Linked DNA regions of Homo sapiens. The protein of the gene in region 1 interacts with the protein of each later gene in a biochemical or structural test. Each region holds a gene or a part of one and is shown on either strand. Other genes may lie near its edges. The genes, in order: SUPT5H, CCNT2, MNAT1 and UBR5.

Region 1 (7,028 bases):
CCCCGCCGCTGGCTCCTCTTCAGTTACCAGGTGAGGCAAGAGGGCACTGTGAGGCCTGTCCCCACTGCCAGGGACAGGATTGGATGGCCTTTTCAGACAGCCAAATGATGACATGGTCCTTGAAGGACAGGGTTCTGTGGCTAGACAGGTAGGGATGGCAAATAATGAGCTACTTTTGAGGGGAGCTGCTGGTTCACCCATCATGGCTCCAGTAACCTGTTCATTTATTCATTCAACAAATGTTCTGGCTGGGTGTGGTGGCTCACGCCTGTGATCCCAGCACTTTGGGAGGCTGAGGTGGGTGGATCACGAGGTCAGGAGATTGAGACCATCCTGGCTAACATGGTGAAACCCCGTCTCTACTAAAAATACAAAAAATTAGCGTGGTGGTGGGTGCCTGTAGTCCCTGCTACTTGGGAGGCTGAGGCAGGAGAATGGCGTGAACGCAGGAGACAGAGCTTGCAGTGAGCAGAGATCGCACCATTGCACTCCAGCCTGGGAGACAGAGCGAGACTGCATCTCAAAAAACAAAAAACAAAAAACAAATGTTCCTTGACTTGGCATGTTGGGGTCACAGTCTCCCTTACAGAGATCTCAGTCTCAAGGCAGAGGCAGTTTTATAGATACACAGTTACTGCAGGGGATGTTGAGGACGGTGAGAGCACATCCAAGCCCTGAGGTGAGCAGAGAGTGGTGGGGGCATCCTCCACTGGGAGGGAGGAGCCAGGTTTGGAAAGAGGCATCTCTGGGACCTGTCAGAGGGGAACTGATGACAAGGTTCCTAGAAATCAGCCTGTGGTCCTGTCATAGTTTGGGTTGTTAAAATGTGCTTCATCGTGGGCTAGTCGAGATTTGTGTTAAGCAAATATTTCTGAAGTCTTCTGTGCTTGGCCTTGGGCTGGGTGATGTTGGGGGACCCAGCAGTGCCTGAGATGGACTGGGCCCTACTATTGGGAGGCTCACAGTGGTCAGGGCTGTGATGGAGGGAGCCCAGAGAATTGTGAGCATAGAGGATGTGCCTGACTCTGCCTGGGGGAGAGGGGGCGGGGATGGCTGCCTGGAGGAGGAAGGTTAGTTTGGTTTTTTTTTTTTGTCTTGGTGTCTTGCTCTGTCACCCAGGCTGGAGTGCAGTGGCACGATCTCAGCTCACTGCAGCCTCCACCTCACGGTCAAGCAGTTCTCCTCTCTCAGCTTCCTGAGTAGCTGGGATTACAGCGGTGCGCCACCACACCTGGCTGATTTTTATATTTTTGGTAGAGATGGGGTTTCACCATGTTGGCCAGGGTGGTCTCAGAACTCCTGACCTCAAGTGATCGCCTACCTCGGCCTCCCAAAGTGCTGGGATTACAGGCATGAGCCACCACGCTAAGCCTTTTTTTTTTTTTTTTGAGACAGGGTCTCACTTTGTCACCCATGCTGGGGTGCAGTGGTGTGATCTCGACTCACTGCAGCCTCAGCCTCCTGAGGATCAAGCAATCCTCCTGCTTCAGCCTCCCAATGAACTGGGACAACAAGATTTTGCCACCATGCCTGGTTAAGTTTTGTATTTTTGGTAGAGACAGGGCTTTGTCAGATTGTCCAGGCTGGTGTCAAACTCCTGGGCTCAAGTGATCCTTCTACCTTGGCCTCCCAAAGTGTTGGGATTACAGGTGTGAGCCCCCATGCCTAGCTAAGGAGGGAATATTTTCGTTGAAGTGTGAATGGGAGGCACAGTTTTTTTTTTTTGGAGATGAAGTCTCACTCTGTCGCCCAGGCTGGAGTGTAGTGGCACAATCGCGGCTCACTGCAACCTCTTCCTTCTGGGTTTAAGTGATTCTCCTGCCTCAGCCTCCTGAATAGCTGGGATTACAGGCGCATGCCACTGCGCCCAGGCCCAGAGGGGACTTTTTATACAGAAAACCAGCATGGATGATGGCCAGCACTGAGAGAGTATGGTCCAAGTAGTTGAGTGCAGCTGAGGCCTAGTGTTGGGGAGGCAGTCCTGAATGGTGGGGAACGGGGAGAGGCAGCAGGCAGAGCATGTGCTTCTAGTTCAGGCTGGCTGAAGCTGAGCAGGGGAACAAATGGTCAGGTTCATGTTTTAGATTACAGTTTTCTAAGACTGTACCATATATTCTAGGTTGGGGATGATGAAAGGTGCTTTTAGGTGGAATAAGGACAAGACCTTAAGCTACATTGAATCATTTAGTGAGAATATTTCCTTTTCAGTTGTGTGTCTTATCTTGATTGGGTCATGAGAAAGTTTCATCTTAGTGCTACTGTGTCTTGAACGCCTCTGGGTGGGAGAACAGGCCTTAGGCTTAGAGCCTGCAGCAGGCAGCAGTATCTTGCTGGGTCTTAATAACATTGTTTTGCTTTTATCTTTATAGTTACCTTGTGTTTATGACAAACCTTCAAAAAGTTTTAAATTTTGAAACATTGCATAATATAAAAATGTTTTTATTTAAGAAGGTGAGTAGATTTGAAGAAAATACACATTGAGTATTATCTAAAATGCTTGGGACAAGAAGTGTTTCAGATTTTGGATTTTTTTTTTTTTGATTTTGTAATATTTGCTGTGGAGCGTTCCCTAATCTGAAAATCCAGAATGCTCCAGTGAACATTTACTTTGAGCATGACCTTTTTTTTTTTTTTTTTTTGAGACAGAGTCTTGCTGTGTCGCCTAGGCTGGAGTGCAGTGGTGCGATCTTGGCTCACTGCAACCTGTGCCTCCCAGGTTCAAACAATCCTCCTGCCTCAGCCTCCCAAGTAGTTGGGACTACAGGCGTGCCACCATGCCTGGCTAGGTTTTTTTTTTTTTGTATTTTTAGTAGAGATGGGGTTTCACTATGTTGGCCAGGCTGGTCTTGAACTCCTGACCTCAGGTGATCCGCGCGAGCCACCGCGCCCAGCCTGAGCATGACCTTTGAGCATTATGTCAGTGCTGAAAAAGTTTCAGATTTTGAAGCCTTTCAGATTTCAGTTTTTTGTTTGTTTGTTTTTTTGACAGTGTCTTGGTCCATTGGCCAGGCTGGAGTGCAGTGGTACAATCTCGGCTGAGTGCAACCTTCACCTCCCAGTTTCAAGCGATTCTCCTACCTCAGCCTCCTGAGTAGCTGGGAGTACAGGTGCCCACCACCGTGCTGGGCTAGCTTTTGTATTTTTAGTAAAGACGGGGTTTCACCACATTGGCTAGGCGGGTCTTGTACTCCTGATGTCAGGTGATCCACCCGCTTTGGCCTCCTAAAGTGTTGGGATTACAGGCATGAGCCACTGCACCTGACCAGATTTCAGATTTTTGGATTAGGGATGTTCAACCTGTATTAGGTAAATGGATTGTAGTAATGACATGGAAGAAGTCGTGAAGTTCATGAGTTAAAGACTGAAGTTTGGTATGCATCCATTAATGTTGTTTCTGGTATGGAAAGAGGGATTAGAGGCCAGGAGAGTAGGGAGGAGGCTGGGGTAAGGATCCAGGTGTTAGAGGGCAGTGTCCTGGCCTAGGCTCAGATATATGGGGCTGGGGGAAAAGGATGGGTTGGAGAAATGATGTTTACAGGCAGAAAGGATGAGGATTTGGTGCCTGTCGGTAATTGGAGGAGGCCATCACAGGTCTAGGGGAAGACACTGAGGTCAGTTTGGGACACAGTGAGTATGAAAGGGCTCAGAGGCCATCTAGGGGAGGCATCCAGGATGCTGCTGGTGCATGGAGGTCTTGAGTTCTGGAAAAAAGTGGGACTCTATAGACAGATGAGGACACGTGTCATCTCTAGAGACAGGAACTGAGGTCATGGAAAGTAAAATGGACAGGGAGAGAGGGCATGGAGGGAGAACAAAGTGGCCCTGGACTGAGCCCTGGTAATTGATGTCAGATTTGAAGGGGTTAACAGTAAGAGGAGCTTGAAGAGGAGCTGGTGGAGTTTTGAGAAAAACCAGGAGAGCATGATACGGCAGAAGCCAAGAGAGGAGCATTTCTCCAGGGAGGGCATGGTTGGGGTGCCAGATGCTGCTGGGATGGTAGGGAATACAGAATGGCCACAGAATTAGCAACAGGGGTGGCCAGTGATCTTCGTGAGCAGTGTGGACTAGAAACAGAGATGGGAGTCACTGTCACAGAGATGTCCACCACCGCCAAGGGAGAGGACGAGATGGCCTTGGGGAGTTGTAGAATGGGAAGAGATGGGCCAGGTGCTGTGGCTCACACCTGTAATCCCAGCATTTTCGGAGGCAGAGGCGGATGGATCACCTGAGGTCAAGAGTTCGAGACCAGCCTGGCCAACATGGTGAAGCCACGTGTCTACTAAAAAAATACAAAAATTAGCCAGGTGTGGTGGCGCACACCTGTAATCTCAGCTACTCAGGAGGCTGAGGCAAGAGAATTGCTTGAACCCAGGAGGTGGAGGTTGCAGTGAGCCAAGATTCTGCCATGGCACTCTAGCCTGGGAGACAGAGTGGGACTCTGTCTCAAAAAAAAAAAAAAAAAGAGAGAGAAAGAAATGAGGCCCAAGGACCAAGCTTCATCAAGCTATTATAGTTAAAGACTCGGTGGAAAGTGAGCAAGAGGTCTAGTGCAGGGAGAAGCCCGGGTCAACTCCCAGGGTTGCTTGGGTGGCTGGGGAGATGGCAGTGCTGTCGCTGAGATAGGATGGTAACCAGAGAGGCCAGGCTAGAGTGAAAGGGATATATGCAGAGCAAAGTGGGCTATGATTGGCCAGGCCAATCTGAGGTCAGATTTAGGGTGAGGAACTTGGTTTTTGGATTTTTGGGGTAGCAGAATTCTGGTGCTACAACCCTGCCTGACCCCTGTAGGTAGACGAAGAGCGGCGGAGTGCAGCGGGCAGTGAGAAAGAAGAAGAGCCTGAGGACGAAGAGGAGGAGGAAGAGGAGGAGGAATACGATGAGGAAGAGGAGGAAGAAGATGATGACCGACCCCCCAAGAAACCCCGCCATGGAGGCTTCATTCTGGACGAGGCTGGTATGTCATAGTGCTTGGCCAGTGCCGAGCAGAGGCTGAGCTTCTACTTTTAGTTCCATTTCTTTTTCTTTTTTTGAGGCGGAGTCTCGCTCTGTCGCCCAGGCTGGAGTGCAGTAGCATGAACTTGGCTCACTGCAAGTTCATGCCATTCTCCTGCCTCAGCCTCCTGAATAGCTGGGACTACAGGCGCCCGCCACCACGCCCGGCTAATTTTTTCTATTTTTTAGTGGAGACGGGGTTTCACCTTGTTAGCCAGGGTGGTCTCAATCTCCTGACCTCGTGATCTGCCCGCCTTGGCCTCCCAAAATGCTGGGATTACAGGCGTGAAGGACCAAAGTTCTTAACTTTTCTCGTGCTACGGCCCCTTCTGTAGTCTGGTGAAACCCTGTTCCCTTCTCAGAATCATCTTCTGAAATGCATAAAACAAAATACATAGGATTCCAAAGAGGACAATTTATTGAAGTACAGTTATCAGAATATTTAAAAAGAACATTTTGGTGCATATGTTTCTTTGTTAACATATTTAGGTAATAAGACTTTGTAGGTAGTCTGAGAATCTAATTTTCAAGTAGCAGTGAGTGTAAATGCTGCCTTGAGATACCTATAGCTGTAATGTGCTGTGAAAGAGCCAGTGACACAGCTAACATTGTGTGGTTTGTTGCCATTGTATGTAATTGATGTAAATGCTAAATTTCAATTCCAGGTTACTGAAAATAGGAGCTGTAGTTTTTTCATCGAACACAGACCACCCCAGATGAAAAATCTCTGTTCTACGTGTTAAATCCCTGTTAGTCAAATTGCTAGGTAAAGGTGGTGCATTTTGTTGTTGTCGTTGTTTTTTTTTTTTTTTTTGAGACGGAGTCTCGCTCAGGCTGGAGTGCAGTGGTGCGATGGCTCACTGCAACCTCTCCCTCCTGGGTTCAACTGTTTCTCCTGCCTCAGCCTCCTGAGTAGCTGGGACTACGGGCACGTGCCACCATGCCTGGCTAATTTTTTATATTTTTAGTAGAGACAGGGTTTCACTGTGTTAGGATGGTCTCGAACTCCTGACCTTGTGATCCGCCCGCCCTGGCCTCCCAAAGTGCTGAGATTACGGGCGTGAGCCACCATGCCTGGCCGCACTTTTTTTAAAAAAAGATTTTTTATATTTACGGCCAAATATCAGTTCCTAAAAAGATAAGACTAGTTCATACTTCCATGATGATAATGAATGTGCATGTTTTCCCTTACCTATGGGAAGAGGGGTTACTTAGAACACATCCTGCCTCTGTTTTCCTGGGACTGTTTTACCTGAGAAGAAAAGTAGTTTATTGTCAAAGGGACAGGAGGTGCTCTGGATGTTCTTGGAGAGCAAGAGAATGGATACCATGCTGGGTAAAAGCTGTGGGTTCCCAGGGACACCCATATGTTGGTGGTGGAAGTGTTGGTGGGCACTGCCTGTGTGGAAGGCTGTGTGGCAGTGCCTGTTAGCATTTAACATGCAGGAACCCTTTGACCAAGCAGTTCCTCTTTAGAATTTACTTTATGGTTAAACTTGCATGAGTGCATGAAGACCTGAGAACAAAGATGCTTGTTGTAGTCCTGTTCGCAGTTGCAAAAGTTTGGTGACCTAAATGTTTATTGATGATTAGGGCCTGGTTAAACAAATTATGGGCCATATAGTATATGAGGCATGTGCTGCTGTGGGAGAGCTCTGAGTTAGTAGTAGTTTTGAGAAAAAGAAAGGTACAGAACGGTGTGTTAAAAAAATTACGTGGGGGCTGGGCGTGGTGGCTCATGCTTGTAATCCCAGCACTTTAGGAGGCTGAGGCGGGTGGATCATCTGAGGTTAGGAGTTCGAGACCAGCCTGGCCAAGATGGCGAAACCCTGTCTCTACTAAAAATACAAAAATTAGCTGGGCGTGGTGGCGGGCGCCTGTAATCCCAGCTACTTGGGAGGCTGAGGCAGGAGAATTGCTTGAACCCGGGAGGTGGAGGTTGCAGTGAGCCGAGATTGCTGCACTCTAGCTTGGGTGACAGAGCAAGACTCGGTCTAAACAAAAAAAATTACATGGGGGGAACATAGTGGTGGCGG
Region 2 (7,028 bases), on another chromosome or scaffold:
TTTTTTTTCGGGGGGGGGGTGGGGGACAGAGTCTCAGTCGCCCAGGCTATAGAGTGCGGTGGCGCAATCTCGGCTCGCTGCACCCTCCGCCTCCCGGGTTCAAGCAGTTCTCTGCCTCAGCCTCCTGAGTAGCTGGGATTACAGGTGCCTGCCACCACGCCTGGCTAATTTTTGTATTTTTAGTAGAGATAGGGTTTTCACCATGTTGGCCAGGCTGGTCTTGAACTCCTGACCTCATGATCCACCCACCTTGGCCTCAAAGTGTTAGGATTACAGGCGTGAACCACCACACCCAGCCAGTAGGCATAATCGTAATAAAAATAGTTTATATACCTGGTGCTGAAGTAAAAAGATCACAGAAAAGTAATCTGCCTTTTATCCTGTCTTTAGGTCAGAGGTTAGGTTGTGGTTTATGTGGGGTTTTTTGACACAGGAGGAGCTACCTCATTTCCATTCTGAAAAGTAAAGTTTGTTAATTTGGAGAGCAATTGAATAGGAATCTTGGAGAACTGATATGTTAAGACTTTCACCATGTTTTGCAGCAGCTTTTTTTTCTGTGTCAGTCACAAAAAGGCAATTCAAAATTAAAGACATGAAGGTGTGGCCGGGTGCAGTCACTCACATATCTTGAGCACAGGAGTTTGAGCCCAGCCTGAGCAACATGGCAAAACCACGTTTCTACTAAAAATACACACAAACCGGGCATGGTGGCGCACTCCTATAGACCCAACTACTGTGGAGGCTAAGGTGGGAGGATCACCTGAGCCTGAGACGTCAAGGTTGTAGTGAGCTGTGATAATGCTACTGCTCTCCAGCCTGGGCAACAGAGGAAACCCTGTCTGGGGGGAAAAAAAAAGACATGAAGATTTATCTGAATTGTAGAGTGAAGTGATACTACTATTCTTATTACTTACTGAAATAATTCACTTAATGATTGTGTTCCAGAAAAGAACATTGGCTTAGACAGTAGCTTTGAGAGAGAAGGGCCTCTATTTTAGGCACATACTGTGATTTTTGTGCATATAGCTAATTAATTATGTTAATGGATTATTTAACAGATTCTTTTGTTGTTCTGCTATAAAATTTAATACAGTAGGATACTTAAGAAAAACAAAGCTTACATTTTGTGTACGAGATTTTGGACCAGAACTTGAAGTGTATTTAATGTTTTACAACCAAGTTGTTAACAGAAATTGAGTCAAAACAGTTTTGTTAATGTTGGACCCAAAAGTAGAAAAATAGTCTTTTTTTTTTTCTTTTTTTTTCAAATGAGGAAGTAAAGGTCTGGGCATTAGGGTTTTTTTCATCCAAACTGGATGAAAAAGCTCATGAGACTTTAGCAGGGACTAGTCATGACATTGTCAAGGAAATTACATCTTGAAAGATTAATGGTTAAATTATAGCTTGTCTGAAGTGTCGATCTTAACATTGGCTTAGAATAGTTTACAAAAAAGCTTGCTATTACAAAATGAACCTGTAGTCTCTATTAATAGAGGTTCCCCCAGTATTGAGGTGGAATTGGCATTATTAATATTATATAATATTCTGATGTATTTGACTGATGAATATTTGAGAGTGGCTAGTAACTATTAATGACATTATTAGTTCATCAAAACCACACTACTTTGGAAAAGTGGGTCATTTGATTGTAATCAGAATTTTAAGAAAGTTGGTAGAAATTTACAATGAAGATAGTTTGCTAATATATTAATAGTGTTGATAGCTAGGAAGTATATTTGGAGGAATTTTCCCCTTTAAAAAAAAAGTCTGGGTGTGGTGGCTCACACCTGTAATTCCAGCACTTTGGGAGGCCAAGATAGGAGGATCACTTGAGGCCAGGAGTTTGAGACCAGCCTGGTCAACATAGCGAGACCCTGTCTCTGTTATTTAACAAAAAAAAGAAAGAAAGAAATGCAAAATATTGCATAGTTCCCTGTATACCCTTTAGCTTCTCCTGGTACTAACATCTTACATAACAATATATGATTATCAAAACTAGGAAGTTAACATTGGTACAATACTGTTAACTAAACCACAGATGTTATTCAGTATTCCATATTTTTCCCTATTCTAGGATCCCATGTTCCATTTAGTTGACATGTCCCTTCAAGTCTTCTCCAGTCTGTGACAGTTCTCCAATCTTTCCTTGTCTTTCATAACACTGACACTTAGGAGAATAATGGTCATTTTATACAGTGTTCCTTAGTTGGGGTTTGTCTGATGATTTCTCATTATTATGTCGAAGTTATCCATTTTGAGCAAGAATACCATAGAAGTAAATTGGGTCTTGCTTGGTGCATCATATCAAGGGGTACAGTATGTTGATACGTCTTATAACTGGTCATGACAACCGTGATCACTTGGTTACAGTGGTATCCTTAAAGTGGTTTCTGCACTTTAAAGTCACTATTTTTTTTCTCTTTGTAATTAATACATTTCATGGGGAAGATACGTTGGGATTATACAAATAACGTTTTTCCTCAAACTTTTGTCCACTAATTTTAAAGAATCTTTTGATAGATCTTGTCTGTGACAAAAATTATTGTGGTGTTTGCCTAATGAAGATTTTTTTTTTATTGGGGGGGTGATTATTTTTAATGCTACTAGATTTTCTAGAGATTCTAATTAAGCAAGTAAAATCAAGAGGGAAAGTAATCGTTACAAAAGGATTCAGCTTTGAAAATGCCGGTTGAGAGTTGTGTGTACTTCTGTGTATGCTGAGGATTTAATAGGAGGGTAAAAGTGAAGTAGATGAACTCCTAGCATTCCTTTTTAATACTGCCCACTTAAGAGAAATTTAAATCCTAAAGGCACCTTCTAAGTTTCAAATTTAAATTTTATTTTTAGAGCTAACACATGAGTTTCTACAAATATTGGAGAAAACGCCTAATAGGTTGAAGAAGATTCGAAACTGGAGGGTAAGAGAATTGACAGGGTTTAACAGAATTTCAGTCTTTTATGTAACATTTACATAGCTAACCAGTTTGAATTTTTGTGGTTAAATAATCTTTGCAGTATTCCTGAATAATTCAACGTATCTCAAGTTACATATACTCACATATTCAACTACTGAGTCCAGTGGACTTTGCTAAAGTACATTATACTTTTAAAAAATTTTTTGCAGTGATTATGACAAAAGTATCCTCTTCATTTTACAAATGGGGAAACTGAAGCCTAGACAAGTTAAATTACTTTCTGAAGTGCTGGGCTAGGATTTAACTTGTATCTGATTCTAAAATGGGTGTTTTCAATTTTTTATAGCCTTTTATGCCTCTAAGGCATTTATTTACTGACAACATAAAATCTTGAACCCCAGGTCATTTTATTTCCATATGTTTAATATATAATGTTTTTAATATATAACTTTTATAAGACAAGAAATTTGCATTAAATTATTTTGCTATATCACTGCTTCTTCTGTGTTTTATTTTAATAGGCTAATCAGGCAGCTAGGAAACCAAAAGTAGATGGACAGGTATCAGAGACACCACTTCTTGGTTCATCTTTGGTCCAGAATTCCATTTTAGTAGATAGTGTCACTGGTGTGCCTACAAACCCAAGTTTTCAGAAACCATCTACATCAGCATTCCCTGCGCCAGTACCTCTAAATTCAGGAAATATTTCTGTTCAAGACAGCCATACATCTGATAATTTGTCAATGCTAGCAACAGGAATGCCAAGTACTTCATACGGTTTATCATCACACCAGGAATGGCCTCAACATCAAGACTCAGCAAGGACAGAACAGCTATATTCACAGAAACAGGAGACATCTTTGTCTGGTAGCCAGTACAACATCAACTTCCAGCAGGGACCTTCTATATCACTGCATTCAGGATTACATCACAGACCTGACAAAATTTCAGATCATTCTTCTGTTAAGCAAGAATATACTCATAAAGCAGGGAGCAGTAAACACCATGGGCCAATTTCCACTACTCCAGGAATAATTCCTCAGAAAATGTCTTTAGATAAATATAGAGAAAAGCGTAAACTAGAAACTCTTGATCTCGATGTAAGGGATCATTATATAGCTGCCCAGGTAGAACAGCAGCACAAACAAGGGCAGTCACAGGCAGCCAGCAGCAGTTCTGTTACTTCTCCCATTAAAATGAAAATACCTATCGCAAATACTGAAAAATACATGGCAGACAAAAAGGAAAAGAGTGGGTCACTGAAATTACGGATTCCAATACCACCCACTGATAAAAGCGCCAGTAAAGAAGAACTGAAAATGAAAATAAAAGTTTCTTCTTCAGAAAGACACAGCTCTTCTGATGAAGGCAGTGGGAAGAGCAAACATTCAAGCCCACATATTAGCAGAGACCATAAGGAGAAGCACAAGGAGCATCCTTCAAGCCGCCACCACACCAGCAGCCACAAGCATTCCCACTCGCATAGTGGCAGCAGCAGCGGTGGCAGTAAACACAGTGCCGACGGAATACCACCCACTGTTCTGAGGAGTCCTGTTGGCCTGAGCAGTGATGGCATTTCCTCTAGCTCCAGCTCTTCAAGGAAGAGGCTGCATGTCAATGATGCATCTCACAACCACCACTCCAAAATGAGCAAAAGTTCCAAAAGTTCAGGTAGTTCATCTAGTTCTTCCTCCTCTGTTAAGCAGTATATATCCTCTCACAACTCTGTTTTTAACCATCCCTTACCCCCTCCTCCCCCTGTCACATACCAGGTGGGCTACGGACATCTCAGCACCCTCGTGAAACTGGACAAGAAGCCAGTGGAGACCAACGGTCCTGATGCCAATCACGAGTACAGTACAAGCAGCCAGCATATGGACTACAAAGACACATTCGACATGCTGGACTCACTGTTAAGTGCCCAAGGAATGAACATGTAATAATTTGTTTAGGTCAATTTTTCCTTTACTTTTTTAATTTAAAAATTGTTAGAATGGAAAAATTCCTTCTGATCTAGCAGTGGTAACCCCTGCTGTTGCTGCCACTGCTTCAATATTTGTAAGTGCTGCTTTATTCTTCATTCTGAAAAGAAGAGATTATAGTAAACAAGTCTTTATCTCCACATATGATAGTGTTATAAATACTGTAAAAGCATGGAAGGTGCAAAACTCAGTATTTCTACAATTGCAGCTAAGAACATTAGGATGAATGGCTGGCTGCTTCTAGGAATATAAGATGCCTCAAGCATTCATTATTTATGATTTGAATACTGTAGCTATTTTTTGTTGCTTGGCTTTTGAATGAGTGTAAATTGTTTTCTTTTGTGTATTTATACTTGTATGTATGATTTGCATGTTTCAATGATAAAGGGATAAAACAGTATACTGACAACTGTTTACAAGAAAGTGGAGAAAAATGTACATACATTTTTGTATGTTTAGATATTACCGTAAATACTCAGGATTGGAGCTGCTTGTAAGTATAACAATATACAGAATAACTTTATTTTATCTTGTCAGAGTCCATCACTAATCTAAAACAAAGGTGGCACTTTTTTATGTTAACCTTAAACTCTAGGCCTTACTGGAAGCCACTGATAGGGGACACTTCACTACCAGATGTGTGCAGTGCAACAGATGGTCATATACACTGTGAGGCACTGAAATTTTGCCTTCAGAGGTTCTGACCAGATTGGCTGCTGAAATAGCCCCTAACTTTCTGAAGGCTTGAAGAGGAAAAAATAAAGTTTACATACTCTTGATGTGAAGTGCATTTAAATGTTTGTTGGCTTGTTGCAGTTCTATGAAACAGAGCTGTTAATAATGGTTATGTGGATTACTGTGATTTGAAAACTAAATTCACAATAACTTACCTAGTAGAGATTTAGTGAGTTGTTTCCTTTAAAGAATTTTACACTACATATTTTAATAGTAAACAGGGATCACTTTTCCTTTAGCATTCAGAATGACACCATATTCTTAAATATACTCCTTCCCTGAAGCGTGTTTGTGTGTGATGCCATATTTCTTTTTCAGGTAAATGTAGTCTTCCTTATAAAAATGAAATTAAACCTATGCTCTCAATTCTTTTATATTCTAACAATAAATAAAAAAGAAAAGATTACTGACTGTGCATTGTACCTGTATTTATAGTTTATGGTTATCAGGAAGCTCTGTAAGAAAGAAAAGGTCAGCCTCCCAGGCAAACCAGTAGTGGAGGTTTTACATTTGTTTGCACATCTCAGTATATTTCTGTTGAGGTAAAGTTTGCACAGTCATCTGACTTCTGATCAAGCATTAGATTTTAACTTGTTTAGATTTTGTCTTAAACACCAGTAATATGGCTCTTGTTTATCAGCTAATCTTGAATTTATTCTGTGGTAAATCTTTTGAGTTGTTGAGTATATTTGAGATTGATTGGATTCGACCTCTTGTTGAACTGAAAACTTAATTTTTTCTCTGTATTTTTGTTACAAAGCCACTGATACGTGCACAATTGTAATTAAGTATGTTGCAGTTGTAAATATTAGAGTTTAATCTCATGCTCTACCTTTATTTAGCAATTACCTAATTTGCCAGTAGCTTTATAATTTTTAAAGATAATTGTTCATTATTTTGTCAATGTTATTTGAACTTGGGGTACTTAGGAGCCTCTTTGTAGGGACTGTGCCTAGGTAGCATGTCCTAACATTTGTTCTGGTCTTGCATAACTTCAGTAATCTTTGTCATTATATGTAACTTTGTTGCTCTGTATGGCATAATATTGTATCCATAAACATGGTAATTTTGATACAGTTATACTTTTACAGTGGTACATAATCCAAGGACTAGTATAGAATTAAGCTGAGTGCAAGATGAGGGAGGGAAGGGCTTTCTTGGTAATTTAGATGTGAAACCTCTACAGAGCTATCATGTAAAAACTACATAAGGTGGTTGTGCTACTGTATAATTGGGGGTGATAATACCAGGAATTTTAATAAGATTTTGTAAAGAATATCCAGAAAAGTAGTGAACTTATTTTCAGTAGACATAGAAAACAATGTGAATATTTAAGGTCTGTGACTATAGTTAAACTTCACTAAGAATTTGCAGAATTGTTTTGAGATGTGTGAAT
Region 3 (7,028 bases), on another chromosome or scaffold:
TTTACTTTAAGTTTTGGTGCCAGTTTATCCTTTATTTTTCTTCTTAAGTTCCAACTCCTTTATTTCATACGTTTCTAGAGCTAGACTACAAGGGAAGTAATTCAAGCCTGTGTCTACTCATGTTGGAGACAATTGGAATGGGGATAAAACCTGTTTTTTGTTTGATATAAATTATAAAAATATATGATTTTTTAACTCTTTTTTTAAAATTCTGATTCTTGTAGTAGATTCCAGACTTACTCTTTATATTAAAAAAATTTAAACAATTTTTTTATGCTTTTAAAGCTAGAGAGGGGACTATAAAAATCAGATCTAAGCACATATCTTAGGTTTTCTGGAGTGATCCTGACATTTAGGTATTTTGTGCGAGTCAGACAGTCTGTCCTTGTGTTTGGCTTGGAAAACATGTTTGCCGTAACTAGAGCTAGTCTCTAAAATAGGTAGCTGATTAAAAGGTCACAAATAGAGCTATAAAGAATGACAACCTAACAAATGAGTCACTGTGGTATTTGTTTTTTATTGTCTACTCAAGATTTATATTAAAAATATTTTTCATGTCATCGTTTCCTTTCTAATGCAGTTTTCAACTTGACCAACAATGTGGATTTGGACAACACCAAAAAGAAAATGGAGATATACCAAAAGGAAAACAAAGATGTTATTCAGAAAAATAAATTAAAGCTGGTCGGTTGCTAAGTATTTTCTTCTTATTTTGTCTTAGAAACAAATGTTTCCACATGATACTTTAAAAAGCCATCTTCCTTTAAACCAGTTACATTTATAGAAAATTTAGCTGAAATTTAGACCAGAAATATGAATATATGCTGTATAGGTATGTAGGTAGGCAGGCACACATTACTGTAGCAAAAACCACTTTGACAGCATTATGTTAGACTGTGCTTTCTTAAGGAAGTGGATCCGTAAGATAGGTGATTGTTAACGCTAGTTTTATCTGCCTGTATAATCTTCTGGTAAGTGAGCATTTGGACAGTGGTCACAAAACACTGGAGGCTCATTTTTATCCTTGGACATTAATTTCTCTAAAGGAGAGAGAAAACCCAGACAGACGGTGATGGAGCTACCAAGAGGGAGATAAAACAAAAACACTATTTATTAGAAACTAAAATGAATTCATGATTAGATCAGAGGAACACATTTGTAAACTAAGGTTAACTTTGGTTTCTCAATTAGTTACCTTTTTTGTTTTACCGAAAGAGTAACATTGCTAGATATAAATATGATTTTGGTTTGTTTTAGTTGATCTCATGTTGAAGTTTGTTTTGAAAATATCTCAGGAGTCATTATTATTATATGTATTAGAATGTATTCTATAAAGAAAAAATTGTATGCATGCAAAGGAGCAATTGTCTAATTTATACACTTTAGCTATCATTTCTATAGTACAGTTTGGCTTTCTAGTTGTAGGGGAAAGCAGAGGTAATTACGTTTGAGATACTTTATCAGGATTTTGTAATAATCAGTGAAAAGGATACAAGTATATTTGGATCACATAGCTTATATTTTCATTTTGTATTTAGAAGAGACTTCCTCCTTGTAGTCTTATAGTGTTTTATATCAGCATTTCTTTCCTGCTGTAAAACTCTCAATGAATTGATACTACATTTTCATTCCATTCATAGCTAGCCTAGCTTTCTTTTAAAAGTATCTTATTTCTGAGAGCATCAGTATGTCATTAATGTTACTCTCTTTGCCTAGTAACCTTCTCTGGGAACATCAGAAGATACATGCAAAATAGGTATGCGTAGGTAAAATGTTTCATTAACCCCAGGTGTTGGTATTACAGATGTGAGCCACCACTTTTATCATGAAAGGGCGTTACATTTTATCAAAGCCTTTTCCTGCATGTATTGATATGATTATGTGATTTTAATTCTTTATTTTGTTAATGTATATTAATTGATTTTGTATGTCAAACCATCTTTCCATCCCAAGGATAATTCCTGCTTGGTTATGTTGTATGATCCTTTTAATGTGCAGTTGGATTCAGTTTATAAGTATTTTGTTGAGAATTTTTGCATTTTTGTTCATCAGGGATATTGGCTCACAGTTTTCTTTCCTTGTGGTACCTTTGTCTGGTTTTAGTATCAGGGTAATAATGCTGGCTTCATAAAATGAGTTTGGAAGTGTCTCCCTCTTCAATTTTTTAGAAAGGTTTGAGAAGGATTGATATTAATTCTTCTTTAAATGTTTGGCAGAATTCACCACTGCCGCTTTTTCTCTGTTAGGAGGTGTGATTACTGATTCAGTGTCCATACTAGTTCTAGGTCTTTTCAGATTTCCTGTTTCTTCATAATTTGGTCTTGGTAGGTTGTATGTTTCTAGGAATTTGTCCATTTCTTCTAGATTAACTGAAGCGTAATATAATTAAGTGTTGGTGTATAATTGTTCATAGTAGTCTCTTATGATCCTTTTATTTCTGTGGCATCAGTTGTAATGTCTCCTCTTTCATTTCTGATTTTGAGTCTTCTCTCTCTTTCATAGTCTTGCAAAGAGTTTGTCAATTTTATATTTTGAAAAAACTTAATTTTGTTAATTTTTTCTGTTCTTTTTCTGTTTTCTATTTCATTTATTTTTGCTCTAATGTTTGTTATTTATTTTAATCCTTTGTTCTGCTTACTTTGAGCTCAGTTTGTTATTAAATTTCTAGCTCCTTGAGATGTAAAGCCAGGTTGTTATTTGAGATCTTTCTTCTCTTTTAAAGTAGGTGTTTATCACAAGAAACTTCCTTCTTAGTACTGCTTTTTTGTATCCCTCAAGTTTTGGTATGCTATGTTTTTGTTTTTGTTTGTCCTGAGGTATTTTCTAATTTCCTTTTTGATTTCTTCTTTGACCCAATGATTATTTGAGTGTATTGTTTAATTTTCACATATGTGCATATTTGTGAATTTTCCAGTTTTCCTTCTGCTATTGATTCCTGGTTTTATTCCATTGTGGTCAGGAAAGATACTTGGTATGATTTCAGTCTTCTTAAATTTGTTAAGACTTGTTTTGTGACCTAACTTGTGACCTATCCTGTAGAAAGTTCTGTGTGTGCTTGGGAAGATCGTGTATTCCGCTGCTGTTGAGTAGAATGTTCTGTATATTTCTGTTAGTTGTTATAACAGAAATATACAGAATTATAAAGTTGTTTAAGACTCCTATTTCCTTACTGATCTTCTTTCTGAAAGTTCCATCCATTACTGAATGTGAGTTAAGTCTCCTACTGTTACTATATTGCTGTCTATCTCTCCCTTCAGTTGTCAATGTTTGCTTTACATATTTAGTTGTTTATAATTGTTATATCTTTCTATATGTTGATCCTTTTATCATTATATAATGTTCTTTGTCTCTTTTGACAGTTTTTTAATTAAAGTCTATTTTGTCTCTTATTATGCTCTTTGTTTCAGTGAATGGTGCCAGCATTCATCCAAGTGTTCAATCCATATTTGGTCAGTCTTTATATTCTGTTGATGATCACTCCTTATCATTTTTAAGCCTCATCCCCACTCTAATTAGATTATTACTTTATTTAGGGCTCTTATTTCTATTCTTTCTTTTTTTTTTTTTTTTTTTTTTGAGATGGAACCTCGCCCTGTTGCCCAGGCTGGAGTGTAATGGTGTGAACTTGGCTCACTGCAACCTTCATTTCCTGGGTTCAAGCGATTCTCCTGCCTCAGCCTCCCGAGTAGCTGGGATTACAGGCATGTGCCACCATGCCTGACTAATTTTTTGTATCTTTAGTAGAGACAGGGTTTCACCATGTTGGCCAAGCTGGTCTCGAACTCCTGACCTTGTGATCCACCCGCCGTGGCCTCCCAAAGTGCTGGGATTACAGGTGTGAGCCGCTGCGTAGGGCTCTTATTTCTTATCTGGGTTATTTGAATATACTTCTAACTAGTCCTCCTATTGTCAGTCTTGAACCCAATTGATCTTTATGTATACCTTACTGCCTCTAGTCATCTTTCTAAACTCATCCCTCAAATTCCCTTAATATGTTCCCAGTGGCCTTAGTATAGCAAAATTCCACTAGTATGGTATAACAGAATAGTTGTTTTATTTAATAGTAACGTGTCTACATGAAATAAAGTAAATTCTATTTTCTTCAATATGGAATTGCTACATTATTAAATAATAAGTGACTAGTGTGTTTTATGCTTCCAATAAAGAAAGTATTAGAGTGTGGTATATGATTGCTCTTGGCTCCTAAATTTATTCCACGCCATATATAAATTTTTGTTTTAGACTCGAGAACAGGAAGAACTGGAAGAAGCTTTAGAAGTGGAACGACAGGAAAATGAACAAAGAAGATTATTTATACAAAAAGAAGAACAACTGCAGCAGATTCTAAAAAGGAAGAATAAGCAGGCTTTTTTAGATGAGCTGGTATGTATTAATGCTAATTGTGATTGTAAAAAACATTCTTCAGGATTTACCTTTCCTAGTAGGCTGGATGATGGCATTTAAAGGGCTTTTCCACAGTGTTTGTAATCTGGTTCACCTTTAGTTTTGTTGGTTATGTATTGATATCAGTGTATTTATTGCTGAATAAGAGGTTGCCCTCCATCCACACTGAACAATATGTTTTTATGCTCACAATTCTGTGGGTTAGGAATTTAAGTGGTTCTTTTGGGCTTTTCTGCTTCCCTAATGTATTCTCAGGACACCTCTCCATGTGGTTTTGATAGCGACAGGAGGCAGCCAAATGCCTAGGCAGATAGGGACGGGTACCCAGAGAAACCCCATCTCCATGTTGAAGACAGTTTAAAACCTGAAAGCCAAGCTACAAGTTAAATCCTTGGACCAGATTGAGAACTTGTCCTCCTGTTTGGTGTGCTTTCCTCTGATTGATCCCCACTCTTCACCTATTTTATGTATATCTACCCTTTCCTAATTGGTTTTCTACACTGTCATGCCCATCTTTGAGTAGTGTCTTCACTTCAACCTTTTTTGCTTACTCATAAGCTAATTCAGCACATTCTCCTCATCCTGTGCCTATAAAGACCCCAGACTCAGTAAGTAGAGGAAGAGACAACCTGACTTCGGGGAAGACGACTTGCTCTTCCTGTCCCCTCTCCAGCTCCCCTCTCTGCTAAGAGCTGTTTTCATCGCTCAATAAAATTATCACCTTCGCCATCTTTTAACCATCCCTGTGACCTCATTCTTCTTGGATGCCAGACAAGAGCTTGGGACCCACCAAGTGTGGGTACCCAGAAAGGCTGTCACACTGGCACTTTGCCCTTCCTGGTGGAGAGCAGCTGCCCTAGGTGACAAGGCCAGAAGCCAACTGAGCTGCCAACACACTGTTGTCTGATGGCAGAACTAAAGGAGCACTGTAACACTTCCCCTGGGGCTTTGGGGTTGTGGGCCCCCTCACCTGGGCACTGCCATGTTCCCCTTGAGGCAACATGCCTGGTCTGGCTGTGGGCCCCACGTAGAGTTTGCTTCTGTGTCCGTGCCTGGGGCGGATGGCTGGGTCCTGCACTTGCTTGCTTGTGTCTGGTCTGACTGCGGGCCCCATGCAAAACTTGTTCCTGTATTGGTGCTTGGAGCAGCTGGCTAGATCTGCGCTGACTCACCCACGTGCTCCCTCCCACATAGAGTTGAGTGCAGTGGGTCTAGTAGAGGGGAGTCCTTACCGTGAATCTAGTGAAGGGGCTGACTACATCAGAAACTGCATCAATTTCTGTAACAGTGTGATTGTACTTCTCACATGTTGGCTCAGGGTTACAAGAGAGAATATCCCAAGAATAAGGAGGTAGAAGATGCTAACATTTTAGGGCTTGGGCTAGGAAACTGGCACAGCACTGATTCCACCATATTAGTAAAAGAGCCCACTCAGTTACAAAGGGAATGGATATAGATCTCACCTCCTAATGGGAGTGTGATGGCCATCTTTAGTCCACACAGTATGTACTGGGGAAAACTATGTTTTTCTAGAATTTGGCATAATATAAATTCATTTGGGATACTCAGTCTCTATCCCAATGTGAGTTTAGTGATAAGAATTATGAAAATGACTTTCATTTTCATATTGTAGTTTGTCTTACCCTTATGCCTATTTATTTATATCATGCCAACTACTATGAAGGATTTAAAGTGATTTCCTAGATAAGAGTATTGTTTGTGGACATGGCACTACTTACTTTGTGTAACTCTAAGAACGATGTTAAAATGAGGTTCTAGTATATTTTACTTCTATATTTTTAAAAAGATTTTTGTTTAATATCCATTTTATTTTCAGATGAGAGAGTGACATTATAACTGAGATGAGCCAGTATATTCTTGATAGATTGTTTATATGGCTTTAAGCTAACTGACTAAAATACATTGTTTCTGAAGCACTTTTCTCCTGATTAATACTATTTTTCTAATAATGAGCTCATTTTGGCTCCATGCTGAAGTTTATATTGACTGTTTACTTTGTGACAATATATTTTATATTTTTGCATAAAAAAATAGTGTATTTTTGCTTGAAAGAAATAGCGGGGTTTTTGCAAATTATTGTTTTCCAGCAATTAGCTTCCTAGGTAGTCAACCTTGTTAGATAATGACAGTAATAATAACTAAGGTTTATGAAGTGTTTCATGGATTTATTACTATATTATTTGATACTTATAACCCTGTATGATATTGATGACTTCACAAACCGGAAAATCTTCCTCTCCAGGAAAGTCTTTTTGCATTCTTCTCTTTCCCTTTATGTTCATATAATTTATTTCCCTGAGGCTTTTGTGTTTGTGTGTGTGTGTGTGTATGCAGTGTTAATACACTTAACTTTCTTGTCTAGTTGATAATGCTATTATCCTATGATTGGGGAAAATATGTATATATGTGTTCTTCTACTGTGCTTTTGCCAAAAAAGCATTTAAGTCAGTTAACCAGGAGTAAAAAAAGAGAAAGCAAGATTACTTAAATTATAAGGAGGTGAGAAACTAAAGGAAAAATAAGGGTAAGGGCATTCATGAGGCTTAGATAGAAAACACTGTCATAAAACTCTATTTTCTATGACTGGAATGTGAATTTGGCTC
Region 4 (7,028 bases), on another chromosome or scaffold:
AGCGTATTTTCATCTAAAGATAAAAACTTTACCAAGTTTTAGTAAGTTGGGGCAATAAAAAAGCTACTGCTACTGTAGCTTGACTTTTTTTATTATGAGAAATGTATGAGAGTCACAAATAAAATGATAATCATAGTTATGTATGAAAAGGGTGTAAATAGACTTTATACTTTGGAATAAAAGTAGTAAGATTAGACAGGCAGAATGGTACTGCAAATAAATTGCTCAGCTGAAGAAAACTTGGTCCTCAAAACAGTAGTGTTTTCTTCAAATACGTTTTCTTTCTTTACCCACATCCTCTTAAAAAGTCAAATATTTTGTTCAGCATCATAGTCTGATGTCTCAAGTGTCTAAAATGTACAAAGCATAAAAAAGTATCTTTTTTTCATAATTTGTGTTTTCAGACTTGCCAATAATGAATAATAATGATGCCAGGATGAAATTGACAAATACAGGTGGGGATGGCTGGGGTGGAAAGAAGAGGATGTTGGCTGTGACTTCCCAGAATGATTACAAGGTGCCTGGCACAGAATGCTGGGCCCTCAAGCAAATATTCATTGAGCTGAATTGAAACCATTCAGTGCTCAGATACTTTGGACATTTTGATCTCCTTTCCAATGGATTTCTTGAGTTAGTACTACGTTCCTGCTTAAAACATTGTCTCAGAGAAACAGTAAAACAATATAAAGAATGTGGTTCGTCGAGCTTGAGGGGAGAGCTGAAAGGCCTGCCTCACTAATAGCCTGGAAAGTGCCTCACTAATGAGCTGAAAAAATAGGCACAGAGATTTACAGTGTTTATGCAGGGATACAACTACTGAGAGACAGCTGAGGTCCACCTGATGGGTCTTCTGACTTTTCTTTAAAGTCCAGGGCTCCATTCCACTTCACGTGGCTTGTATTCCAGAATGGTTCTGCTGTCTCAGACATCCCAGCCTTCAGGCAGTGTGGCCACCTGTCTTAGTGTTTTGATTCCGTTTTCCCCTCAACTGCTCTTTCCAGGGCTCCTAATGGGTTTATGCCTTTTTTTCAGAGGCTGACGCTCTTAACCTTTTCTTGGTACTAGGTTAGGATAGGTCTTCTTAAGGTGATGTGGTTATGGCATTTATTGTCCTTGTCCTGAATTATTCCTCAAGATGCAGGTTAGTTACGAAACAAACCAGTTCTTATTGCTTGTCTGTATGTGGAATTTTCCTGTGAGATTTGCCTTTTGGCATTACAACGTATTGTGCAGTCATAAACAGTCTTTATTGAGATTGTCATATCAAAAGGATTTTTCTCTAAGCTTAGAGTTTCCCTTTCAGGTGTCATAACACAAGGTAAGATACTATAGACAGGAGTTTCAAACTCTGCGCTGGTAGCCTAGTCATTTAACCTCTTAGAACCCCCCACATCAATCTCTGAATTAGGTGTAGCACTCTCCTCAAGGTCAGGGAGGAACAGTTGAGACAGTAGATGGGAAAAGATCAATATTATAATGTGGATTCTACGGAAAACATTACGAAGAGATGGTTACTTTTAACTTTTTACGTGTTGCCTGGTTTCCAGATAGCAAAGCAGGAACTCAAAAGAGTTGCCCTAGAATATCCTTAGCATTCAGAGCAGAATCGACTCTTAGTTCTAGATTAGTACTTCTCAGCTTGGTGTGATTTTGCACCCTCCACACACAACCCCCTCCCCTTATTGGGCAGTGTCTGGAGACATTTTTTATTGTCACAGCTGGGGCATTGCTACTGGCCTCTAGTGGATGGAGGCCAGAGATGCTGCTAAACATCCTATAATGCATAGGATAGCCCCCACAACAAAGAATTACGGGGTCCAAAATGTCAGTTGTGCTAAGGTTAAGGAAGCCCATCCTAGATGATCTTCAATGCATTTGGTTGTAAAAATAAGTGAAAATGACTTTTATGAAGAATATTTCAAGCAATATACGTTCTTTTTTTTTTTCTTTTTTGAGACACAGTTTTGCTTTGTCTCCTAGGCTGGAGGCAGTGGCCGGATCTCGGCTCAATGCAACGTCCACCTCCTGGGTTCAAGCGATTCTCCTTCCTCAGCCTCCCAAGTTACAGACGCATACCACTATGTCTGGCTAATTTTTGTATTTTTAGTAGAGATGGGGTTTCGTCATGTTGGCTAGGCTGCTCTTGAACCTAACCTCAGGTGATCCATCTGCCTCAGCCTACCAAAATGCTGGGATTACAGGCATGAGCCAATGTACCTGGCCGCAATATATATTCTTAATTTTTAAAACATGACTGTTTAAATTAAGATTAAGGCCCGGCCAGTGGCTCATGCCTGTAATCCCAGCACTTTGGGTGGCTGAGGCGGGCGAATCACTTGAGGTCAGGAGTTCGAGACCCCTTAGCCTGGCCAACATGGTGAAACCCCATCTCTACTAAAAATACAAAAATTAGCTGGGTGTGGTGGTGGACGCCTGTAATCCCAGCTACTCAAGAGGTTGAGGCAGGAGAATTGCTTGTGCCTGTGAGACAGAGCTTGAGCCCGTGAGGCAGAGGTTGCAGTGAGCCAAGATCGCGCCACTGCACTCCAGCCTGGGCGACAGAGCAAGACTCTGTCTCAAAAAAAAGGAAAAAAAAATTAATTAAGATTGATTAAAATTAAATAAAAATTTAAGTCACTTCATCTGTAGCTAGTCACATTTTAAGTGCACTGTAGTGCCACGTAGCTACTCACTACCACATTGGACAGTGCAAATACAGAGCAGTGCCATCATCACTGAAAGTTCTCTTGGATAGTGTTGGCATAGAAAGTGTGTTTTTGCACAAGTCTTGGCATTCAGTGAGTGCTCATTATGTTTATTAAGAACTTTGAGGTTTTAAAGACTCAGGCATATCTTCACTCAGTAGGAGCCAGAAAATATGCCAGGGATTATATGAAGCATAACAAAGGTTGTGGTGAGTAGAGGTTATAATAGTTGAAAGCTGCTTGAAATTTTATTGTGGTGCACCAAAAAACAAAAAAACAAAAAAATCAATAAAAAAACCCCCCAGACATTAGGTTGTGTGGGATGGAGCATCATATTACCAAATCAGTGAAAAATCTCACCATTTGATTATTGAGATTGTTACCTAAAAGCAATACTAAATGCATTATGCCAGGTGCGGTGGCTCATGCCTGTAATCCCAGCACTTTGGGAGGCTGAGGTGGGCGGATCATCTGAGGTCAGAAGTTTGAGACCAGCCTGGCCAACATGGTGAAACCCCATCTCTACTAAAAATACAAAAATTAGCTGGGCATGGTGGTGCATGCCTGTAGTTGCAGCTACTCAAGAGGCTGAGGCAGGAGAATTGCTTGAACCTGGGAGGTGGAGGTTGCAGTGAGCCAAGATTGCGCCACTGCACTCCAGCTTGGGTGACAGAGCGAGACTCCATCTCAAAAACAAAAACAAAACCAAAAACAAACAATAAAAAACCAATACTAGATTTATTGTATTGGAAAAGTACAGTCTGGCCTAACTAAAATGTTTAAATGAATTTGCTTAAGTAAGATTAACAGCAGGGTGTAGAATAGCCAAGCAAAATAGAAAATCAAAACAAAGGCAGAGCAATTTTATAAATCAGGATATCTGTGACTGAATCATAGGCCTAGGAATAAACAGACACTTGTGAAGAAAATTACAGGATACACAGGAATACGACTAGGAATAATAGGTGAAATTAGGAAAGGTCAGGGTTTTTTCCCCTAACAATTAGACCATTAGGTTATTTAGGAAATAGTTTCCAAAGGAAAATTTAATTGCTGAAGACTGAGTTACATGGACGTAGATCTTATAAGGTATATTAAAGGAAGCAATTTTATGTTACAGGAGGATGTACTTAATGTCTCCCCTCCCTCATTTTATCATACATATTTATTTTGTTTTTTGAGTCTCGCTCTTGCCCACGCTGGAATGCAGTGGTGCCATTTTGGCACAATCTTGGCTCACTGCAACCTCCGCCTCCCGGGTTCAAGCGATTCTGCTGCCTCAGCCTCCTGAGTAGCTGGGAGTACAGGCGCACGCCACCATACCTGGCTAATTTTTGTATTTTTAGTAGAGATGGGGTTTCACCGTGTTGATCACGCTGGTCTTGAACTCCTGACCTCGTGATCTGCCCACCTAGGCCTCCCAAAGTGTTGGGATTACAGGCGGGAGCCACTGCGCTCGCCCATATTATACATATTTCTAATTAAGAAAACAGACTCTAGTTAGCATCCATGTTTCTGTCATTTTGACTCCTTGGCATTCTGGTCATGTGAAAATAGCCTCTTCTCTTGGCTCACTGTGGTTATGAATTGTTGGTTTATTTTTAGAACTGGTTTTTAAGTTTTCCCCTGAGTATTATTTTTAAGCCTTTTATTTTGGAAAATTTTAAGCATATACAAGAGTAGAGAGAATAGTATGATGAACAACCATGTTCCCATCACACAGTCTTAACAGTTGTCAACTCATGGCCAATCTGATTTCAACTCTCTCCCCATTTATTCTCCTCTATCAGGTAATTTAATTGCTGTATCTTCACTATATATTTCAAAATATGAAGCCTTTAAAAAAAAACCTGAAAAAACCTTAATAACAAAATTGCCCAGATTTTCCTGTTGTCTCATAAATGCTTATTTCTGATTGACAATTTTGATAATTTTACTTAATAAAGCTGATTGGGTTCTAACATGTTAAAAAATTTGACATTTGTAGAATAACCTTAGAATTTGGATTGTAACCTTAGAAGAAGGGGCCACTGGGGAATTATTTAGTTCCTTAAAGCTCAGTGCTGTAACTTTTTTTTTTTTTTTTTTTTTTTGAGATGGAGTTTCGCTCTTGTTGCCCAGGCTCGAGTGCAGTGGCGTGATCTCTGCTCACTGCAACTTCCGCCTCCCGGGTTCAAGTGATTCTCCTGCCTCAGCTTCCCAAGTGGCTGAGATTATAGGTGTGAGCCACCACGCCTGGCTAATTTTGTATTTTTAGTGGAGACGGGGTTTGACCATGTTGGTCAGGCTGGTCTCGAACTCCCGACCTCAGGTGTTCACCTGCCTTAGCCTCCCAGGGTGTTGGGATTACAGGCGTGAGCCACTGTGCCAGGCCTCAGTGCTATAACTTCTTAACCTCCGGTATGACAGCATTTTTTGTCAGCAGTCACTTGTAATTGTTAGATAAGGATGATAAGACAGGATTCTTGAAATTCAGTGATTTTTCCATGGGGTCACTTTGAGAAATAAGATTGTCATGTGAAAAGTTTGCAGCATTTTCATGAACTAATAGACAGGTGAGGTATTAGTCAATTGAACTTGGCTATAAGAAATTATTCTCTGAGATCATATTTCTTATTACTTTCTTGAGACAATCAGTGTAGTGGTAACAAAACCCCTTCCAAATTAGAAATACGATAAATTCTTAGATAACCATGCTTTGTAACATTGTCATTTTGTCAGGATATTAAAGAAGGTATTAATATTTAATGTTATTTTACTTGTAAATACACAATTTATGTTACTTGCACAGCTAAAGTACTGTTATTTGTTCAATTTCTGACAGTATCACTTAATAAAATGTCTTTGACTCTTTCATCTTTATTGAGTTATACTTTACATTCAGTAAAATTAACCCATTTTAGGTGTACAGTTTGATGAATTTCGGCAAATGTGTACAGTTGTGTAATCACCACCACAATCCAGGTACAGGACATTTTCATCACCCCAAAAAGTTACCTGGTTTCCCTTTGTATTTTCAGTCACTTCCCCCTAGGCTAGGTCCTGGCTACCTAGCAACCATTGTTCTGCTTTCTCTCACTGTAATGCTTTTCCTTTTTGAATTTCATAGAAATGGAATCATGTGTCTGTTTTCTTTTGCTTAGAACAGTGCTTTTGCAACAGATCTGTGTTGCAGCATGTAGTAGTTTCTTCTTTTATATTAAAAGTAGTATTTTCATTGCTTGACCTGGGAAGGTGGAGGTTGCAGTGAATCAAGATTGTGTCATTGAATTCCAGCCTGGGCAACAGAGTGAGACTCTGTCTCAAAACAAACAAAAAAAGTAGTACTTATTTCATGACTGTACCACAGTTTTTAAATCTGCTTTCTAGCTGATATAAATTTGGGTAGTTTACTCTTTCTAGCTATTCTCTAGTCTTTATTTTTTTCTTGTTTATTTATTATTTTAATTTTTTTTGAGACAGGCTCTTGCGCTATTGCCCAGGCTGGAGTGTAGTGATGTGAACATGGCTCACTGCAGCCTTGACCTTCTGGGCTCAAGCGATCCTCCTGCCTCAGCCTCCTGAGTATCTGGGACTACAGGCTTGCATTACCACATCTGGCTAATTTTTAATTTTTTGTAGAGATGGAGTCTCTCTGTGTTGCCCAGGCTGGTCTCGAACTCCTGGGCTCAAGCAATTATCCCGTCTCAGCCTCTCCAAGGTGCTGGGATTACAGGCATGAACCACTGTGCCTCGCCTTATTTATTTCTTTAAAATTAGAGACATGGTCTTGCTGTGTTGCCTAGGCTGGTCTCAGACTCCTGGCCTCAAGCTGTCTTCCCACCTTGGCCTCCCAAAATGCTGGGATTACAGGCAGGAGACACCATGGCTGGCCTGAAGTTTTTCTTGGCTTCAATTTATCACAATGTTTTTCATAGGAAAAGTCCACTGATAATAAAAACCTAGATTTTTCTTGACAGCAAATTTTTGTGTTAATTAAAAAACATACTAGTATATGTAAAAAGATTATATTTTAGAATTCCATTAAATGTAATGGTTGTATTCTAGATTGCTAGTTATAAAGATGATGATAGTGGCTAGTCGACAAAGCACTGTGATGAATGGATCAGTAGATAAGTTTTTATTTTCTTCCCCATGAGTTCAGGCTCCATTTCTGTGATATAGAAGTGTCGAGAACCTGCCGTTTCAAGAAATTGGCTCTGCTCCAGCATGAATCTGCTGTTCAGAATTCAGGCGATGAGGTATTCCAGGTCTTTACTTGAATTCAGATACCAGGTCTACCTCACAGACAACCTGGAACTCCAGAGATGGCCTTAACTGTGT

The links.
Region 2: of the proteins of SUPT5H (region 1) and CCNT2, one has a biochemical effect on the other in vitro, tested with the Homo sapiens proteins (one study listed by BioGRID).
Region 3: of the proteins of SUPT5H (region 1) and MNAT1, one has a biochemical effect on the other in vitro, tested with the Homo sapiens proteins (one study listed by BioGRID).
Region 4: of the proteins of SUPT5H (region 1) and UBR5, one has a biochemical effect on the other in vitro, tested with the Homo sapiens proteins (one study listed by BioGRID).

What each region holds. Positions count from the first base shown.
Region 1 is NC_000019.10:39,448,568-39,455,595, forward strand, and holds part of SUPT5H (transcription elongation factor SPT5), read left to right. Parts: intron 1-4,788; coding exon 4,789-4,954; intron 4,955-7,028. UniProt on the Homo sapiens protein: Component of the DRB sensitivity-inducing factor complex (DSIF complex), which regulates mRNA processing and transcription elongation by RNA polymerase II.
Region 2 is NC_000002.12:134,949,794-134,956,821, forward strand, and holds part of CCNT2 (cyclin-T2), read left to right. Parts: intron 1-2,847; coding exon 2,848-2,918; intron 2,919-3,436; coding exon 3,437-4,855; 3' UTR 4,856-7,028. UniProt on the Homo sapiens protein: Regulatory subunit of the cyclin-dependent kinase pair (CDK9/cyclin T) complex, also called positive transcription elongation factor B (P-TEFB), which is proposed to facilitate the transition from abortive to production elongation by phosphorylating the CTD (carboxy-terminal domain) of the large subunit of RNA polymerase II (RNAP II).
Region 3 is NC_000014.9:60,807,745-60,814,772, forward strand, and holds part of MNAT1 (CDK-activating kinase assembly factor MAT1), read left to right. Parts: intron 1-580; coding exon 581-684; intron 685-4,242; coding exon 4,243-4,383; intron 4,384-7,028.
Region 4 is NC_000008.11:102,402,678-102,409,705, reverse strand, and holds part of UBR5 (E3 ubiquitin-protein ligase UBR5), read left to right. Parts: intron 1-7,028. UniProt on the Homo sapiens protein: E3 ubiquitin-protein ligase involved in different protein quality control pathways in the cytoplasm and nucleus. Mainly acts as a ubiquitin chain elongator that extends pre-ubiquitinated substrates.